2 linked regions of the Homo sapiens genome follow. The protein of the gene in region 1 purifies or fractionates together with the protein of each later gene. This does not show direct contact. Each region holds a gene or a part of one and is shown on either strand. Other genes may lie near its edges.

Region 1 (7,395 bases):
TTAGCTTCCACTTGACTGCTGTTGTTTCTCAACTGCTATCAGATTGTATAGTCCAAGGGCTGTGGAATGCTGGCACCTAGGTTGCTTGTGAGAAGAGACACTGTGGCTTGTGTGGGATGCAGTGCCACTGGTGGCCAGGACTGGCAGGTCGTCTGCTTATGAAGTGCCTGAGGCCCCGCTTTTGGAGAGGCACTGACTTGTGGAGTTCTGCAGCATAATGGCAAATACTGGGGCCCCACCAAGAAGCCATGTGGTCCCTTCCCACTATTCATCCCATCTGCCCTATTACTTGCTGCTCAGCCTCTAGAGAAAGGGTATTCTATGACAAGGACTCACAGAATTAGGGCTACTATGACAAAATACCAAAGACTGAGTGGCTTAACTAACAGAAATTATTTTCTCATAGTTCTGGAGCCTAGAACTCCCACATCAAGGTGTCAGCACATTTGATTTCTCTCTCCTTGGCTTGCCTTCTCGCTGTGTCCTCACAAGGTTGTCCCTCTGTCTGTCTGTGTCCTAATCTCCTCTTCTTATAAGGATAGCAGTCATAGTGGATTAGGGCCCACACTGACGGCACTGTTTTAATTTTATTACCTTTTTAAAGACCCTGTCTCAAAACCCAGGCACATTCTGGGTACTAAGGGCTAGGGCTTCAACACACAAGTTTTGGGACACACAATTCAGTCCATAAAAGAGTCTGTCTAGTTCTTACCAAGCTCTGTGACTGGGCTGAATCCTGTAGCTTCTCGGGTCCTGAGTTTCTTCCCAACTTGAAAATGAGGTTTGTGGCTCTTGCTCCCAATGCTGATGTTACACAGCTTACTTTCCATCTTCCTTGTGAACATCTCCTTGGGTTCCAGTACAGCTAGATATAAGTAACAATGGCAGAAATGCAAGTACGGTGTCATTACATTTAATGTTTTCCAACCCTGTATGCATGTAGTGGGGAGAAAAAAAGAAGTGAGAATGTCCAGAGTTGAAAGCAGTCTGAGACTTCATAGGCCACGTGAAGGTTGGCTGTAGAACTTAAGATGGGAGAGAAGCAGGGTTGGGGGAGAACAAAAGTAGGGGAGAAGGAGAATTGATATATATTTGGGGATTGGTCTGTACCAGAAACTGTAATCTCACTGAAGCTTCACAACAACCTCACGAGGTGGGTATTATTATTATTAATAATAATAATTAATAATAATAATAATAATTATTATTATTATTAATAATAATAATTATTATTATTCCCATTTTACTGGTGAGGACACTGAGGCTCAGAATGCAGAGCTGGGCTTTGCTATTTCAGTCTACCTAGAACTCAGAGGAACCTACGCAAGTCAGCTCTGCCGACAGCGTTGGTTGAACATGCTTTGGCACCTCTTGCCTTCCTCCCCGCAGCATTGCCCTGTCACAGGTGACAAGAGGAAGACAAGGTTCCTGTCTGTTTTGTTTGGTAGTTCTAAAAAAATGACATGACCAATTCTGTTGTTGTTGCTGGTTCAGTTTTAGTGAATAGGTAATGTTCACTGAAAATATATCAATAGATATTAACAAGCAAACAAATAAAATTCTGGCACAAGCAAAACTAAGCCACAGTGACAGAAAGCAGATCAATAGTTGCCTGTGGGAAGAGCGGATGAGTATAAAGGGGCCTGAGAGGACTTCTGGGGGAGATGAAAATGTTCTATGTCTTGACTGAGGTTGTTGCTCTACATGTATGTACTTGTATAAAAACTCTTCAAACTATACACTTAAAACAGGTGAGTTTTTAGTAGTAGTAGTGATGTTTGGATACCTGTAACTTTATCTCCATTAGAAATGTCAGATATTTTAATATCATCAGTTAGTTTTTGCAGGTATCTTGAAATATTATTCATGTTCCTCACTACTGGGATAGTTTTGCAGATTCATGTTCCTCACTACTGAGATAGTCATTTAGCCTGTGCACTAGACCTTGCTTTTGATGCCTTCATAAAGCATAGATCAGAAAAAAGGTGAGTTGTTGTATGTAAATTACACCTCAATAAAGTTGATTGATACAAAGAGAAACAAAATCACCAGAAATCCCACCACCAAGAGATAACCACTACCATTTTGGGGTTTTTATGCTGCCAGGGCATTCATCCCCACCCCGCCACCCCCGCACATGCTGTGTTACACTGTGTTCTGGGGTTTTTTTTCTCTCTGTCTACGATATATTATAAAAACCTTTCCACACCAGTACACAGAATGCTGCATCTGTATTTTTACAGTGGTAGAATACAGCATTATGTCAACAAAACATGTTTACTTCACCAATTTGTTGTGTTGGAAAATTAAGATGTTTCCAATTTTTCACTCTTAAAAACACTACCATGAATATCCTTGTAACTAAATATTTGAGCATATCCTTAATGATTGCCATAGAATAAATTTCTTCCAGTAAAATTACTGGGTCACAGGCATTCACGTTTTTAAGGAATTTGATGTATCTTTCAAAATTGCCCTACCTAAAAACTCTATCAATTTAGGTGCCCATTAGCCATCTCTTTGTCTCTACTGTAGACTCTCAATGTGTAGACTCAGCATTGTGACTCTCCACGGGAGCAGACACAAGGTAAGTCCCAGTAACTGACATATCCTGAGATCCCACAACTTTAGAAGCTATTGAAACCTTTCAAAGTCAGTCCCAGCCCTAACTTTAAATGAAATTCAAGACCCATAAAGGTTCAGGGGTCTGAAAGCACTCCTACTGCTCCTACTGAGCACATCCAGGATTCTGACTCCGGACTCAGGCCAGAAACCACCACACAGCTTGCTAACGGAACACTGAGTCAAAGGACCAGCAAAGACCTCCTGCCATCTCAGGCTTAGAGATTCCCTAGTCTCTACACCCCCTTAATCTGTTTGAACCAAGCCTTGCTCCAGAGCAGCCGGGCAAAGGAGCCAGGGATCTCAGGAGTCACACACACTGTTGACGTCTCAGCACAACTCCGGTTGGTTGCATTTTATTTCAATCCTTGGCTCTGCTGCACGTGGCCTTGGGATGGTTATTTAACCTAAGGCTCAATTTCCTCAACAAAAAAATGGAGTTGGTAATTGTACCTAGCTCACAGAGTTTTAGTAGGATGGCATGAGGTAATACAATCAAATTCACTAGCACCACTCCTGGCCCTTAAAAGGTGCTGCTATTTGGTAAGTATTATTATCATTTGTTGGCCCCTCACACTTAGCCTCAGGCAGCAGAGAGGCCTGAAAGAGAACAACTTCCTGCCCTTACATTCTGACTTTTCTGCACTGGTGTCGCTACAGAAGGCCAGCCACCAGGCTCATTTTAGATCTGCCTAATGCCACCGATAAGCTGAGGGCTTGAAACCCCATTCTTAGGAGTGGCTTGCCCACCCCGCATGCCTCTAGGACCAAGCCTGACAAATATAGCAGAAATTACAGGCATCTGATTTAAGGCTACGTGTGTACACTTCGCCTGAGCCAAGCCCCAAGCCCTAGTCCCGCTGCTGCATCAAAGGACCAGCTCTCTTCCAGCCTCCAGGCCCAGAGTAAGCAGCAATTTGGGAGGCAGCCCCCTCTTATTTTTAGCTTTAGAAACCCGAAAAGCCAACATACCAGAGCTCACCCAAGCGTCTCTCACAAACTGTTGTTTGACTTGGGTTGAGAAAATGACAGGCTGGGTTCTGCACCAAGAAGAGAAGAAAAAAAGAGGGGGAAAAAAGGAGTTTTCTTTTCCCTCCGCTGCCAATCTCCATCCCCCTCAACTCCTCCCCTAGGCCTGGGTGGACCCTGCCTGGGTAATAGTTCCCTGCTATATTTAAAAACCACAGATGTGTTTGGTGGAGACTTAATTTCGGAATTGCAGGCAGCGTCTCCTGAGGACAAGGGGAAAGCCGGTGCCGCGCGCCCGCCTGCTGCCTGGAGCTCCCAACTCGGCGGAATCCAGGTCAGGACGCGCCGCCGTTTTGACGTGCTGCCGGCCGGGAGGCGCGGGCGCCAGGCTCCAACGACTAGGGTGGGTGGCCGCGGGGCAGGGGTTGGATCTGAATTCGTCCCTCGGGGGCTCTGGATGCGGGATGCGGGATGCGGGATGCGGGCTCGACTTCCTCGCTGCTGGTCGAGGAGCGTTCTGAGAGTCTCCCCTCCGCGCGCGAGGATAAATATGCGCGGCTTGTCAGTCAGTGCGGCGCTGTCTCCCAGCTGATAGGGTGACGTTCCGTTTGGAGGCTTGGAGATTGGCTTTTTGATTTGGCTTCTTCCGGCAGCTTAATGGGCAAAGCTCTCCGCTCGCCCAGAAACCAGCCTCTCCGCGCGTCCCCTCTGCGCGCGGCGAGGCCGAGACGTCTCCCGCGGTGACAGCGTGCAAGGCGGAGACCCGGCGCGCTCCCAGCCCAGGGAAAGCCCAGGCGACGCGACCGCAAGCCCGAGCCCAGGTCCCTCGGAGCCGCCAGGGCGCGCCGGGCTGCTTGCCTTCCTGCCCCTTCCTGCAGGAATCCCCCGCCGCCCGCGGCCGGGACTCCGGGCCTCTCCCGGGCGTAGATTCCAGTCACCGCTCTGGGTCGGGGTTTCCCTCTTTCTGAAATCCGTGCGGAAGGACCCCTCCCGGGGCCCCTCGCCCTGGCCCCAGACACCCTCCCTCCCAGACCCCGCGCTCCAGATGCGCTGCCCCGCAGCTCCCTGACAGCTGCGAGCCCACGAACCCCGGCGGGAGGGCGGCGGCGGCGGACTGACATGCCCCGGACGCGGCTGCGGCCGGCGGGCAGCCCGCGGGGGCGATGAGCCGCTGCGACCGGTGAGGCGCCGGGCGGCGGGGGCATCGCGTACCTTCCTCACCCCCCTCCCTTGCCCACTCCGCTCGGGAGGCCGAGAGGAAACGGTGAGTAATGGGGTGAGCCTCCTGCCCTTCCCCCTTAGCGGGCAGCCGAGACATGGGAGGTAGAGGTTGGGGGGCTTGGGATGCCCCTAAGAGGATCCCTGATTGTGAGTAACGGGGTTAAGTTATTTCTCAAGATCATTCATATGAACCGCCTTCCTGTGGATTTAGTGCCAGGAGAAGTGGGGTGAGGGTGCCCCGGAAAGTGTACATTGTGTATGCAGTGTTGGGGGGGCAGATCTGGCAGAGTGGGTGTCTACAGGAGGGTGCCGCCGGGTGGGGAGGGGCAGAGAGAGATGCCTGGGCAGGTGGGTACAGTTGGATCGTGAGCATGCTGGGTTGGTAGCGGGTGCTGTTTGGGGAGACTGACTGCTGTGTTGTGTGTGCTGGATGCATGTCGGCATATGTGTGCCACCTGGGCCAGGGCGTGTTGTGCTTCTGGTGCTGTGAGTGTCCGCCGGGTTTGGGGGCTAGCAGGGAAGCGCGTTATCCACTCGGCGCGCGCCCGCGTGCACATACGCACGCACGCGCTCACCCCAATCTCGGGACTCCACCGCCGCGGGTCGGGAGCTGCAGCCCCAGAGCACCCACCGCTGGGGCCAAGGGGGCGAGGGAGAAGGAGGGTTTCTCCAGTGCTGCACTCTCCAGCCCCTGGTGGTCTGCGTGATCCGGGACTCGGTGGAGAGAATCGAAATATATAACTAACCCTCCCCCGATCCCCCAACACACACGCGCGCGCGGACACACACACACACACACACACACACACACACACACACACAGTCAAAGCCCTGATTCAGAGGCTAGCGCTGCTGCTCCTACAGGCCCTGGCTGACCTGCCCAGAGGACCCGAGCCACTGGGAAAGATGATGAAAGCAATTTGCTCCGGGGAAAAAAGCAGTTCTTCGTCTTAATTCATTGTATTTTATTTTTAACGGTGTGGTAGTGGTGGTGGTGGCGGGGTGGGGTTAAATAGAAGAAATGCCTTTAATGCAGTACCATAAATTTACCCGCTCATCGCAGCTTCCTTCTCTCTCTCTCTCTCTCTCCCCCCGCCCCCCGCTTCTCTTCTCTTCTCTCCTCCTTTCCTCTCTCTCTCTCTCTCTCTTTCTCTCTCTCTCCCCCTTTCCTGGCGATTAAAAAACATACCTCCGAACGCATTCGGCGGTTAGGTCTCCCGGGCAGAAGAATTAAAACTGGTTTCAATTTATCAGAAACGCAGACTGCAGCAGGCGCAGCCAAGCTCCTGGGTGGTCAAGAAACACCCGAAGGGGGTGGGGGGAGGAGGGAGTTGAGCGGGGGTGGAATGTGGGTACGTGATAGGAACACATCCGGCCTTCCGGTGGGGCACCAAAAGGGAAGCCTCCTCGGCCCCTGGCGACCCGGTGACTTGCAGCGGCGTGTGATTAATCTTCCACAGCTGTCGTGCCCCATCCACTTGAGCTGAGCTCTTGTTTACCTCGATTTTCAAATATAGCTGCTGCGCCATGCTCTTCCTGAAATAGGGGGATCAGTTCACCCTTTATGGGCTCTTGGCTTCGGGCTGGGGCTTCTTTTTGCTGGCGTCACTGGCTGGATCCAAGTTTGAGAGGAACCTGCCCCTTCATGCATTGCAGGTCTCCAAAGGAGGATGGCTGATGGTCAAAGCTTAGGGTAACTAGATGTGGACTGATCAACCCAGCCCCTCATTGCAATCTACAATGCCCAGCAGCAGTCCCCACACACAAGTCCACTTTGTAGCCTCCTTTTTCTTTAAATGAAATGTAGATACTGGGTTGAGAGGAAGCAGATAAGGCCTATAGAACTGAACTTGGTTGAAGTGGTTCTTTCTTTAACTTGATGGAGAAGGGAAGGCCATTCATGCAGTTTCCTCCGCTTGGAATGCTTTATTCTTCTTCCAACATACTCCTAAAGTACTCCTACTCAAGCTTCAGCTCTCAGCTCACTAGTTACTTCCTCAAGGAAGCCTTTCATATTCTCCCTGACTAGGCCACATCCCTGCTTATTATACACCTGTATTAGTCCGTTCTCACACTGGTAATAAAGACATACCCAAGACTGGGTAATTTATAAAGGAAAGAGGTTTAATAGAGTCACAGTTCCACAGGGCTGGGGAGGCCTTAGGAAGTTTACAATCATGGTGGAAGGGGAAGCAAACATGTCCTTCTTCACATGGCGGCAGCAAGAAGTGACGAAAAAAAGGGGGAAAAGCCCCTTACAAAGCCATCAGATCTTGTGAGAACTCACTGTCACAAGAACAGCAGCATGGGGGTTACTGCCCCCATGATTCAATTACTTCCCTGGCTTCCTCCCAGGACACGTAGGGATTATAGGAACTACAATTCAAGATGAGATTTGGGTGGGGACACAGCCAAGCCATATTTGGCCGTGGAGTCCATTGGACTCCAAAAGAAAAATATTTGTTTATTCATTCGGTTAGCCATTTATTCAATAAATATTCAACAGCCACCTACTCTGTCAGGCATGTGCTAAGTCCAGATGCAAATAAAATAGAATGGACCCTTTTCTCATAAACACTCATA
Region 2 (7,274 bases), on another chromosome or scaffold:
AACCTACGGGCACCCAGGACCCTGTCCATCGGCACAGGTGCCGCGGGAGGGCCATCCGAGGCCAGCAGAGGCTGGGAGCTGTGCAAAGCCTCTCCAAAGAAAAGCCTGGACTACCGTCTCTCGCCCCTGGGCCTGGTCCCCGGCTTCTCCTGAACCTTCTGAAATGCCCATCAGAATGGGGAGACCTTTGGGGTGGGGGTGCTGGCCCCAGGAGACTTCTCCCTGGGGCCTGGTCTCAGGCCATGGTCCCATCTGTGGGACCCATGAGCCCAGCTCGGCACTGGAACCACAGCTCGACCCAATGCATCACACCAGTGCGGCAGGGACGGGTGTGGTTTAACCTCCACAAAAACATGACGTAGGACCCCATGCGCGGCCAGCACCGCTGAGAAGCGCGGCATCTCCCCCAGAGGGAGATCAGCTATGGGAGGAGCTGCACCCATGCCCAACAGCCTGAGGATCGCCCTATGGCGCAGGGCTGCTCCCTGGGCGGTCATGGACTCCAAGAGGCGCTGCCCGGAGGGGCGGGGGCAGCTCTCGGGCGCAATGCGCCTGAGTCCCGGGAACCCAGGAAGTCACCTGAGCGGCACACTGGAAGGGGGGGTCCCACCCACTCCTGTTCACAAAAAATCACAAGAGCAGAACCGACGTGGCGTAAGCCCTCCCTGCATCTCACGTTTAACCCTTGCCAACCACCCCCTGCCTTGCCAAGGGGGACAGGGGACAGGGCTTCCACAGCCAGGGCAGGCCTGCTCCCCTCGTCCAGGGCCCTGCGGCCCCACCCCCAGTCAGGCGCCTCGCTCTCGGCAGGAGAGGCGATGGATGCCCGATGCCCACGCAGGTGGGGCACTACTATTTGGGAGAAGCAACTTTAGAAAGGACATGGCACCCCCGAGTCCCAGCCGGCACCCCCGCGTCCCACCCGGCACCCCTGGGCCCCACCCGGCACCCCCGCGTCCCACCCGGCACCCCCGGGCCCCACCTGGCACCCCCGCATCCCACCCGGCACAGGAGCTGCACGCACGTCCTTCCACCGGGGCCTCACGCGCATGACACCCAAAGCAGAAGGTACCAGGACCCTGAGCCCCGTCGCGGCCGCAGGGCTGGCTGTGGCTGGAGGTCTCACTCAACTTTAACTCTAGTTAGGGCTCACTAGGCGAGTATTTCTCACAGTCAGAGCAAACTGGTATTCACCGCAAAGCCGCTGCCCGTCCAGAACACGCCCAGCTCCCGGCGCCAGAGCGCCACAGCGCAGCTCGTCACCAGCGTGCAGGGCACCAGGTAGAGGAGAGCGGGCTGGCCACGCTGCATCAGGGCCAGTGCCACGAATGTCACAAGGAGGCCAACGCCATAGGCTGTGGGGACAGAGGAGGCATCACCTCAGCCAGGCAGGCCAGGGCCACCACCCATTTCCCTGGGAAGAACGTGAGCGGGCTGGGGTTGGTGGAGGGCAGGGGTGTGCGAGGACGGGAGAGGTACAGTGGGGGTTCAGCCGGCAGGGCCACAGGCTCCCCAAAGTACATGGATCCTTCCGGCACCTCCTGGGCCACAATCCCACCCTGACCCTACCGGAGCCAGGGTCACCGAGGACATGGAAGGGCCAGGGCAAGGAGAGGGACAGGGAGGGGCAGGGTCCGGGCAGCTGCAGGACAGCGGGAGGCAGACGTGATAGCGGAGGGGGCTGCGAGACGTGTCTGGGATGCAGTTTCTATGAACCTCTGAGAAAATCAGCCGAAGGTGACACATGTGCCTGACCAGAAAACCCTTGAACACTGAGCTGTGGGCATATAAACTATGTTCTCAGGAGACACCCAGTGAAATGTTTGGGGTCAAAGGGCACGGTGTCCACCCACCGGGGCCGTGCCCCCAGTCCCCTGAGAACGCAGCCTGTGATTTACATACGTGTGCATGTAAATACACAAACGCACACATGGCCACCCTTGGCACCCGCAGGGGAGGGCTGCCAGGACCCCCTTGCTCATGTCCCTGACGTAAACTGGTGCAGTGTCTGCCTAGAACCCACCCGCGTCCTGCCAAACCATAAATCACCATAGGTTCCTACAAACGCAAACGTGATGTCGCCGCAGGCAATGGCTGTCGCATGGCATTGCTTCGGGAAAACTGGCCCAAAAAATCTGCATGTGTTCAGTACAGATAAGAACACAAATCTTTTCCCCAAATATTTTCAACCTACAGCTAGTGAAATCCACAGCTGCAGGAACCCATGGCTAGTGAGGGCCAACTGCAGTACACGGGGGAGCGTGAGTGTGTGTGTGGAGAGAGAGAGAATGGAATCAAGCGAATGAAAGCGTGAGTGTGTGTGGAGAGAGAGAACGGAATCAAGCGAATGAGAGCGCGAGTGTGTGTGTGGAGAGAGAACGGAATCAAGCGAATGAGAACGCGAGTGTGTGTGGAGAGAGAGAACGGAATCAAGCGAATGAGAGCACGTGAGTGTGTGTGTGGAGAGAGAACGGAGTCAAGCGAATGACAGCGCGTGAGTGTGTGGAGAGAGAGAACGGAATCAAGCGAATAAGAGCGCAAGTGTGTGTGTGGAGAGAGAACGGAATCAAGCCAATGAGAGCACGAGTGTGTGTGGAGAGAGAACGGAATCAAGCGAATGAGAGCGCGTGAGTGTGTGTGGAGAGAGAGAACGGAATCAAGCAAATGAGAGCGCGAGTGTGTGTGGAGAGAGAGAACAGAGTCAAGCGAATGAGAGCGCGTGAGTGTGTGGAGAGAGAGAACGGAATCAAGCGAATGAGAGCGAGTGTGTGTCGAGGGAGAGAACGGAATCAAGCAAATGAGAGCGCGTGAGTGTGTGTAGAGAGAGAACAGAATCAAGCAAATGAGAGCATGTGAGTGTGTGTGGAGAGAGAGAATGGAATCAAGCGAATGAGGGCGCGAGTGTGTGTGGAGAGAGAGAACGGAATCAAGCGAATGAGAGCGTGAGTGTGTGTGGAGAGAGAGAACAGAGTCAAGCGAATGAGAGCGCGTGAGTGTGTGTGGAGAGAGAACGGAATCAAGCAAATGAGAGCGCATGTGTGTGGAGAGAGAGAACGGAATCAAGCGAATGAGAACACGAGTGTGTGTGGAGAGAGAACGGAATCAGGCGAATGAGAACACGAGTGTGTGTGGAGAGAGAGAACGGAATCAAGCGAATGAGAGCGCGTGTGTGTGGAGAGAGAGAACGGAATCAAGCGAATGAGAACACGAGTGTGTGTGGAGAGAGAGAACGGAATCAGGCGAATGAGAACACGAGTGTGTGTGGAGAGAGAGAACGGAATCAGGCGAATGAGAACACGAGTGTGTGTGGAGAGAGAGAACGGAATCAAGCGAATGAGAGCGCGTGTGTGTGGAGAGAGAGAACGGAATCAAGCGAATGAGAACACGAGTGTGTGTGGAGAGAGAGAACGGAATCAGGCGAATGAGAACACGAGTGTGTGTGGAGAGAGAGAACGGAATCAAGCGAATGAGAGCGCGTGTGTGTGGAGAGAGAACGGAATCAAGCGAATGAGAACACGAGTGTGTGTGGAGAGAGAGAACGGAATCAGGCGAATGAGAACACGAGTGTGTGTGGAGAGAGAGAACGGAATCAAGCGAATGACAGCGCGTGAGTGTGTGTGGAGGGAGAGAATGGAATCAAGCGAATGAGAACGCGAGTGTGTGTGGAGGGAGAGAATGGAATCAAGCGAATGAGAACGCGAGTGTGTGTGGAGGGAGAGAACGGAATCAAGCGAATGAGAGCGCGTGAGTGTGTGTGGAGAGAGAGAGAACGGAATCAAGCGAATGAGAGCGTGAGTGTGTGTGGAGAGAGAACGGAATCAAGCGAATGACAGCGCGTGAGTGTGTGTGGAGAGAGAGAACAGAATCAAGCGAATGAGAGCGCGTGAGTGTGTGTGGAGAGAGAGAATGGAATCAAGCGAATGACAGCGCGTGAGTGTGTGTGGAGGGAGAGAATGGAATCAAGCGAATGAGAACACGAGTGTGTGTGGAGGGAGAGAACGGAATCAAGCGAATGAGAGCGCGTGAGTGTGTGTGGAGAGAGAGAACGGAATCAAGCGAATGAGAGCGTGAGTGTGTGTGGAGAGAGAACGGAATCAAGCGAATGAGAGCGTGAGTGTGTGTGGAGAGAGAACGGAATCAAGCGAATGACAGCGTGTGAGTGTGTGTGGAGAGAGAGAATGGAATCAGGCGAATGAGAGTGCATGAGTCTGTGTGGAGAGAGAACGGAATCACGCGAATGAGAACGTGAGTGTGTGTGGAGGGAGAGAGAACGGAATCAAGCGAATGAGAGCGTGAGTGTGTGTGGAGAGAGAACGGAATCAAGCGAATGACAGCGCATGAGTGTGTGTGGAGGGAGAGAATGGAATCAAGCGAATGAGAGCGCGTGAGTCTGTGTGTGGAGGGAGAGAACGGAATCAGGCAAATGAGAGCGCGTGAGTGTGTGTGTGGAGAGAGAACCGCATCAAGCGAATGAGAGCGCGAGTGTGTGTGTGGAGGGAGAGAACGGAATCAGGCGAATAAGAGTGCGTGAGTGTGTGTGGAGAGAGAACGGAATCAGGCGAATGAGAGTGTGTGTGTGTGGAGAGAGAACGGAATCAAGCGAATGAGAGCGCGAGTGTGTGTGGAGAGAGAACGGAATCAAGCGAATGAGAGCGTGAGTGTGTGTGGAGAGAGAACGGAATCAAGCGAATGACAGCGCATGAGTGTGTGTGGAGGGAGAGAATGGAATCAAGCGAATGAGAGCGCGTGAGTCTGTGTGTGGAGGGAGAGAACGGAATCAGGCAAATGAGAGCGCGTGAGTGTGTGTGTGGAGAGAGAACCGCATCAAGCGAATGAGAGCGCGAGTGTGTGTGTGGAGGGAGAGAACGGAATCAGGCGAATAAGAGTGCGTGAGTGTGTGTGGAGAGAGAACGGAATCAGGCGAATGAGAGTGTGTGTGTGTGGAGAGAGAACGGAATCAGGCGAATGAGAGCGCGTGTGTGTGGAGAGAGAGAACGGAATCAGGCGAATGAGAGTGTGTGTGTGTGGAGAGAGAACGGAATCAGGCGAATGAGAGCGCGTGAGTGTGTGTGGAGAGAAGGAGAACGGAATCAGGCGAATGAGAGTGCGTGAGTGTGTGTGGAGAGAGAACGGCATCAAGCGAATGAGAGCGCGTGAGTGTGTGTGTGGAGGGAGAGAACGGAATCAGGCGAATGAGAGTGCGTGAGTGTGTGTGGAGAGAGAACGGCATCAAGCGAATGAGAGCGCGTGAGTGTGTGTGTGGAGGGAGAGAACGGAATCAGGCGAATAAGAGTGCGTGAGTGTGTGTGGAGAGAGAACGGAATCAGGCGAATGAGAGTGTGTGTGTGTGGAGAGAGAGAACGGAATCAGGCGAATGAGAGCGCGTGTGTGGAGAGAGAGAACGGAATCAGGCGAATGAGAGTGTGTGTGTGTGGAGAGAGAACGGAATCAGGCGAATGAGAGCGCGTGAGTGTGTGTGGAGAGAAGGAGAACGGAATCAGGCGAATGAGAGTGCGTGAGTGTGTGTGGAGAGAGAACGGCATCAAGCGAATGAGAGCGCGTGAGTGTGTGTGTGGAGGGAGAGAACGGAATCAGGCGAATGAGAGCGCGTGTGTGTGGAGAGAGAACGGAATCAGGTGAATGAGAGCGCGTAAGTGTGTGTGGAGGGAGAGAGAACGGAATCAAGCGAATGTGAAGAAATGACCAGTCCCTCTGAGAACGGGGCACACGGGAGTTCTCTGTAGCGATCCTGCAACTGTCATTTGAAATTATTTCAAAATAAAGCTCTGAGAAAATTAATTATTTGCTAGAACACTCTTAAAAAAAGAGCCGCTGTGTCCAGCAAGCACACTGCTCCCGGCACTTTTTCTAACACCCATCTCTGTATTTCTGACGCCATGCCACGGGGAGCGTCCCTATTGGTCCATTTTAGGCCATCCACGTGTCCATCAGCCATCATCAACAGACGCAGACAGACACAAACAGGGAGGGCTGGCACCTATAAAGCCTCAGCGGCTTCAGTCTCAGGAATTACAGGGACAACTTGACAAGTTATGTTTCAGGAGAGACAAATCTCTGCAGCTGTGTTTTTATTTTTTCTTTCATTTTATTATTATTTTTTCGAGACAGGGTCTCACTCTGTTGCCTAGGCTGGAGTGCGGTGGCACGATCATGGCTCACTGCAGCCTTGAACTCCCAGGCTCAAGCGATCCTCCCACCTCAGCCTGCAGAGTAGCTGGGGCTACAGGCACATGTCACCATGCCCGGCTAATTTTTGCATTCTTCTGCAGAGACAGGGTCTTACTATGTTGCCCAGGCTGGTCTTGAACTCCTGGACTCAAGCAATCCTCCCACTTCAGCCTCCCAGAAAGCTGGGATCACAGACATGAGCCCCCGTACCCGGCCTCAGCCGTGATTTTAAAGGATAATCATGAAGACAGTAAAATCGGGCGAGGGGAAAGCCAGGGGCACCTGCAGCTGCAGGAGGCAGGTGTGAGGGGACAGGCCGGCCTGAACTCTCCTGGCCCTGGGAGTGGCCGTTTAGGGAGCCACGTGGAGGGCAGGGTCGGGGGCGTGGCTCGGCAGAGGAGGCCTGGCCTGGCCCTGTGCCCAGGAACCAGAAAGCACCACAGCTTCTTTCCTTAGGGCCAGCTGCGGTGGGGGACATTTTTCAAAACAATGTGGGTCAACAGATAACAGCACTTTGCGTAAATACGTTCATAACAAAAGAAACAGTAGAAGACAAGGCAAAGAAGAAAAAGACAAAAAGAGGAAAACAGGAAAGAAAAGGAAAAGAAAAGAACAGAACAATGGAAGCCAGGGAAAATGAGAAAGACGGGGACGGAGGCACAGGCCCAGGGAGAATGAGAAAGACCAGGATGTGGACACAGGCCAAAGGAGAATGAGAAAGACGGGGACGGAGGCACAGGCCCAGGGAGAATGAGAAAGACAGGGACGGAGGCACGGACCCAGGGAGAATGAGAAAGACGGGGATGGAGGCACGGGCCCAGGGAGAATGAGAAAGAGGGGGACGGAGGCACAGGCCCAGGGAGAATGAGAAAGACGGGGACGGAGGCACAGGCCCAGGAAGAATGAGAAAGAGGGGGTTGCAGGCACAGGCCCGGGGAGAATGAGAAAGAGGGGGATGCAGGCACGGGCCCAGGAAGAATGAGGAAGATGGGGACAGAGGCACAGGCCCAGGAAGAATGAGAAAGAGGGGGTTGCAGGCACAGGCCCGGGGAGAATGAGAAAGAGGGGGATGCAGGCACAGGCCC

The links.
Region 2: the proteins of SLC8A3 (region 1) and SPPL2B purify together in Homo sapiens (affinity purification with mass spectrometry; 3 studies listed by BioGRID and IntAct, with this or other methods). This does not show direct contact.

Annotation. Positions count from the first base shown.
Region 1 is NC_000014.9:70,185,839-70,193,233, reverse strand, and holds the start of SLC8A3 (sodium/calcium exchanger 3 isoform D precursor), read left to right. Parts: upstream 1-4,282; 5' UTR 4,283-4,855; intron 4,856-6,001; exon of another isoform or gene 6,002-6,126; intron 6,127-7,395. UniProt on the Homo sapiens protein: Mediates the electrogenic exchange of Ca(2+) against Na(+) ions across the cell membrane, and thereby contributes to the regulation of cytoplasmic Ca(2+) levels and Ca(2+)-dependent cellular processes.
Region 2 is NC_000019.10:2,345,515-2,352,788, reverse strand, and holds part of SPPL2B (signal peptide peptidase-like 2B isoform 2 precursor), read right to left. Parts: intron 1,356-7,274; coding exon 1,195-1,355; coding exon of another isoform or gene 1,174-1,194; exon of another isoform or gene 1,132-1,173; intron 1-1,131. UniProt on the Homo sapiens protein: Intramembrane-cleaving aspartic protease (I-CLiP) that cleaves type II membrane signal peptides in the hydrophobic plane of the membrane. Functions in ITM2B and TNF processing.